2 separate regions of the Homo sapiens genome follow, and region 2 is linked to region 1. The links come from fine-mapping of genetic effects on gene expression. A gene starts in region 1. The other region holds a variant in brackets. All regions are shown on one strand. Distances are between the middles of the regions. Region 1 holds the start of RPGRIP1L (RPGRIP1 like). Region 2 overlaps FTO (FTO alpha-ketoglutarate dependent dioxygenase).

The links. PIP is the estimated chance that this variant, and not a neighbour inherited with it, causes the effect.
Region 2: its variant is fine-mapped to the expression of RPGRIP1L in vagina (GTEx, PIP above 0.99).

What each region holds. Positions count from the first base shown.
Region 1 is chr16:53,702,297-53,704,796 of GRCh38, forward strand. It overlaps RPGRIP1L (RPGRIP1 like), which reads right to left and starts at 1,563. Exons shown (of 27, transcript NM_015272.5): 1 at 1,507-1,563. It overlaps FTO (FTO alpha-ketoglutarate dependent dioxygenase), which reads left to right and starts at 1,860. Exons shown (of 9, transcript NM_001080432.3): 1 at 1,860-1,933. The coding sequence starts at 1,889. RefSeq lists a silencer at 1,473-1,522 and enhancers at 1,558-2,058, 1,673-2,082.
Region 2 is chr16:53,814,665-53,817,638 of GRCh38, forward strand. All of the region lies in intron 2 of FTO (FTO alpha-ketoglutarate dependent dioxygenase), which reads left to right. Among named protein-coding and RNA genes, the nearest start is that of FTO, 110 kb to the left of the region's middle. The variant A/G (reference allele first, on the strand shown) is at 1,594.

The DNA of each region.
Region 1 (2,500 bases):
TGGTTGTCACAACAAGGAAGCGGGATGCTACTGGCATCTAGTGAGTAGAGGCCATGGATGATGCTAAATATCTTACAGTGCTTAGGAGACATAATAATGAATTATCCAGCCCAAAATGTTAATAATAGTGTAGAAGCTGAAAAACCCTGCACAATGCTGCAATGCCTCTCCAACACCATCTTATGTTATCCTTCTTTGCTCACTATGCTTCACTTACATTATTCTTTACTTTCCTCGAACCCCCCATACCCTTGTCTTGCTCAAGGCCTTTGTATTAGCTGGTTCCTTAATCTTTGGAGCTCAGTTCACTTCCTCAGACAGGTTTTCCCTGACCATCCTATGTTAGAGTAGTCTTCCTTACATTTCTTCACTGTTTATTTCTTTTCTTTTCTTTTTTTTTTTTTTGAGACAGGGTCTTGCTATGTTGCCCGGGCTGGCCTTGAATTCATGGGTTCAAGTGATCCTCCCACCTCAGCCTCCCGAGTAGCTGGAACTACATGTGCGTGCCACCAAGCATGGCTTGTATCTCTTATAGCAACTGCCTCTATCTGAAGTTATCAGATAAAATTATTGTTTGTCTCCACTAAAAAAGGATAAACATCTTGAGACGGGTATTAGTCTTGTTCACAACTGTTCAGGAACAGTGCCTGGTACAGGGTGGGAACCAACATTAATATTTATTGAATGATTGGCTGTGCGTGGTGGCTCACACCTGTAATCCCAGCACTTTGCGAGGCCGAGACGGGCGGCTGACTTCAGGCCAGGAGTTCGAGACCAGCCTGGCCAACATGATGAAACCCTGTCTCTACTAAAAATACAAAAATTAGCTGGGTGTGGTGGCACACGCCTGTAATCCCAGCTACTCGGGAGGCTGAGGCAGAAGAATCGCTTGAACCTGGGAGGAGGAGTTTGCAGTAAGCTGAGGTCTTACCACTGCACTCCAGCCTGGGCAACGGAGCAAGAACCTGTCACACACACAAAAAAAAGAATAAAGAAAAAATATTTATTGAATGAATAAATGAATATCAGGTACTGAGATTAAAATGGCAAGCAAAACCCCCGCCTTTATGAAGCTAGCAAGTTATGGAGGTAATCACATGATAAACAAATAATATATAATTAAGCAAACAATAGACCACTCAGGAGGTTTAGGGTCTACCAACCAACTCCTAATCCAGGGCAAATGAGCAAACTGTGTTAGGGACCTACAACTTGCAGGATCTGGATAGAGATGGCAATTAGCAGCATCAACTCTCACCTTCATGGCTGGGATATAACATTTCAAATTGGTCCTGGACGTGGGGATAAAGGGCGGCCTGTGATTCAGGCCTGAGGATGTGGAGGTGTCTTGGGCTGGGCTGCTTTCACGCCAGCAGAACTCCAGGGCCAACTCCAGGGCCTTCTCCAGGCGGCAGAGCGGACCCTAGGACCCCGGCCCGCGCTGCAGTGGGGAGGGTCAGCAACCTCCACCCACCCTCATCCTCCCCCATCCTCCCGGGTACTCACCGTGCCACTGGCCCTGCAGCTAGCTACCGTTGCTATAGCGCCGACAGCGTGGCGGGCGGCTGGCCGAGAGGAGCACGGGAGAAACATGGCAGGCTCCCGTAGCCTCCTGGGAAATGTAGTTCTCCTTGGACTCTAGCCTGTTTGCTCGCGGGGTAGCGGACTACGCTCTTCCAGCTGTCGGACCTGGGAAATTCTCCTGTGCTAAATCCCGTGGCGCTCGCGGGTGTCGCCGCGGTGCATCCTGGGAGTTGTAGTTTTTTCTACTCAGAGGGAGAATAGCTCCAGACGGGAGCAGGACGCTGAGAGAACTACATGCAGGAGGCGGGGTCCAGGGCGAGGGATCTACGCAGCTTGCGGTGGCGAAGGCGGCTTTAGTGGCAGCATGAAGCGCACCCCGACTGCCGAGGAACGAGAGCGCGAAGCTAAGGTATGTCGGGCTCCCGGGGCCTGGAGATCTTCGTGCGCTGTGAGCAAGGATCAGGGAACCGGAAGGGCTTGGTTTGATGGCGAGCGGATGCGCGGTGTTAAACTAAGGGATGACAGGGCCTTGTCAGCAAGGGACCTGGAGATATTAGAGGGGATGTTACAAATTCGTGCTCTTCAGGATGCAGGCCGAGTCTTGTTGGATCGGCTCAAAAATGAGAAGCAAGATACCCATTTCCTTGTCCTTCTTCTGCATCTATTCCTTGGTTAAATTTGTCGCCATCCCTGTGCCTCAGTTTACCGGATTCTCAGATGACTGTGATCATACCAGCTGTGCTTTCTCATAATGGTCTCTGAGGACTGAGATCGGCTTAGATGAAATATCTGTGCAGTCAGCTGTGTTTCTTTGGAACAATTGTCTCCGTGACCGGCTGATAACAGTTTGTGTCTTTTAGCGCTGTGGATATGAATCTTTAACTACATTGCTCCTCTCTACCTTTGATGTTCAGCTTCTGGTAGTTGCCATTCCATGGGATGACCATAATAATGGCAACAGAGATTTTAAAAAGCA
Region 2 (2,974 bases), 110 kb after region 1:
CAAAGGTTCCAGACCTCTGTCCCCATCCCAGCTCTCCCTGTGACCTCCAGCTCTCCACTTCCAACTGCCTACGGAGTGGCTCTACCTGAAAGTCTTCCAGCTACATCTAACTCAACATGATTCATATTCATTAAGTTACTTACTCCATTAAACAAATGGATTTCACTCCCCGACTCTGTGCCAGGTACTGTTTTAGGCATTAGAAATGAAGTTGTGAAAACTGACAAGAGATTCGTGTCTTCTTTGAGCTTATTTCTTGTGGGGCAGGTGATGTAGGAGCAAGCCATGTAGATACTTGTTGGAAGAATGTTCTGGGCCTACAGAACAGCAAAGCCTCAGGTATACTTGACAGGAAAAGCACCCGAGGCCAACATACCTGGAGCAGAGGGAGACAGCTGGTGAGAGCAGGGGAGACGGTCAGAGAGAGAGAGAGAGAGAGAGAGAGGCCCGGTTATACGAGAACTTATAGTCTGTAAGTTCTGTAAGAAGAGCATTGGCGGTTACTCTGAGATGAGGAGGCATGAGAAGGCTTGGAGCAAAGCGTGACAGGATGTCACTTACATTTTAATAAGGATTCTTTCTACAAGGCTCTTCCCATTCAGCCTCTTCTCTAACGGTATCCCCTAGTCCCATTCTTGAGATTAGAAAGCTCACCACCCTCAACTTCTATCCATTGCTTTCTTCCCTCATTTAGTCACTGGGTCCCTGGTGGTTTTACCTCTTTAGAATCTCTCAAATTGTTTTTTCTTTTTCCATCCCACAGACACTGCCTCAACTATGTAGGCCACATTGATCACTTTCTGCCTCCGCAGTTTTAGCATCCTCCTGATTAGCGTTCCTCATGCCCTCCCCAGTGCCATCAGAACTGACTTGTACCTCCTTGTTTTATAAATTTTGTTGAGTCGCCTTTGCTTCCAAGATCAAGTTCAAATTCCTCAGCATATCCACCCTATAAGGCCATTGACTTTCTTGTTTTTTTTTTTTTTTTTTTTTTTTTTTTTTGAGACAGAGTCCCGCTCTGTCACCCAGACTGGAATGTAGTGGTGCGGTCTTGGCTCACTGTAACCTCCGCTTCCCAGGTTCAAGCGATTCTCCTGCCTCAGCCTCCCGAATAGCTGGGACTACAGGCGCGCGTCACCATGCCTGGCCAATTTTTGTATTTTTAGTAGAAACAGGGTTTCGCCTTGTTGGCCAGGCTGGTCTCAAACTCCTGACCTCAAGTGATCCGCCTGCCTCGGCCTCCCAAAGTGCTGGGATTACAGGTGTGAGCCACTGCACCCAGCTGCCATTGACTTTCTGACCCTAAACTACCTCTCTGGTGTAATCTCATCCCATGGCCTAAAATGGCGCCCAATCATAAACTCTCGTCATAGGGAGTTCTTGGTTCCACCCTGACTCTGCTGTGCCCTCTTATCCTTCCTTGCCTTTGTGCCCACTAGTACTCTCTTCCCTTTTCTGTCTGGTGAGCATCTACTCTTAAAGACTTTACTTAAACACTACATGTTCTGTGAAGGCTTCAGAAAATCCCTTCTGTTCTAAAATGTATGAAAAATCTGACTGCTTCTCACCACCTCTGCTTCTTACACCGTGGCC[A/G]AAACTGCCATCATCTCTGTTGCAACAGCCTCCTGACTGGTTCTGCCTCCTTCCCCTGGTCTAGTTTAACACAGCATCCGGAATGATCTTTGAAAACATAAATCAGCTCATTACACTTTCTTGCTCAAAGCCCTTGAATAGCTTCCCATCAGCCTAGGACCTGACATGCACCCACAAAGCTCTACATGCTTGGGTTCCTAACTGCTTCCCTCACCTCATTTCCTGCCCCTGCCCACTCCCCACCCCCCCTCACACTTTTCTTCCTATTCTGGCACTTTACTCTTCCTGGAATAAACCAAGCTCACTCCTGCCCCAAGGCCTTTGCACTGAATGTTCCCTCAACCTGGAACTCTCTCATCCCCCCAGGCATCTGCAGATATTGTATCCTTGTTTCTTGCTTTCTTCTGCTCTGATGTCACTGTATCTAGAGGCCTTCCCTTACCACCCTGTGGAAAGTAGGCATACTTACCCCAGCACTCCCTATCCTACTTTCTCGGCTTTATTTTTCCCCGTAGACTTATCATCATCTAAAATACCGTATATTTTACTTATTTATATGCTTATTGTCTGGCTCACCTTGCTAGGACATGAGCTTCTAGAGAGAAAATAGACGTTTCGCTCTCTTCCATATTCTCAGCACCCAAGTGCTTTGCAAATAGTATGTGCTCAATACATATGTATTCAGTACCTAAGGGTTTTCCAGCTTTTCCTTCCCAATTATTCCCTGCTCCCACAGCAGTATACTCACACTTCTATTGTAGGACATTCTTCTCTTTTGGTTTCCATTTTGGTTTATACTGTTAAATTATGAGATGCTGTCAAATAGGACCTATCTTCTTTTAATCCTTGTATGTCTGGCACTTTATACAGTGCCTGGTACATAGGAAGTATTTGAGAAATGTTAAATAAACAAAATGAAATGAAGTATTGAATGAATGAATGAATGAATGAACGAGGATCTCTGTGTCATTTTGTAGCAAAGCACATGTTACCTCAAGTCTTGTGATAGCTGTGGCAGAGTCTGAACAGTGACTCCAGAAGTGTATCCCTTCTGGAGCTCTAGTTTGCATCATGCAGGCAGAGTCTGGGTCAGACGAGTGTTTAGCCCGTTAGTCATCGGATGGCTGCCAAGTCGCAAGCATTTTACAACAAAAATTATATAGAAAATGAGTGATAGGGTGCAAATTGCTGAGTGCAAAATAGAAAGTGTTAGGAGCAAAATCTATTAACAGCTAGATTAGAAATACAGTCCTCTAAAATCAGAATATTCTAGTACTTCTAAGTGAAGGGTATTTCCCAAGTTACTTGAATATTTAAATTTTTTTTTTCTCTCTACCCAAGGTTGAGTTCCACTGGGCTTCATTTAAGTGAGCCTCTGGTA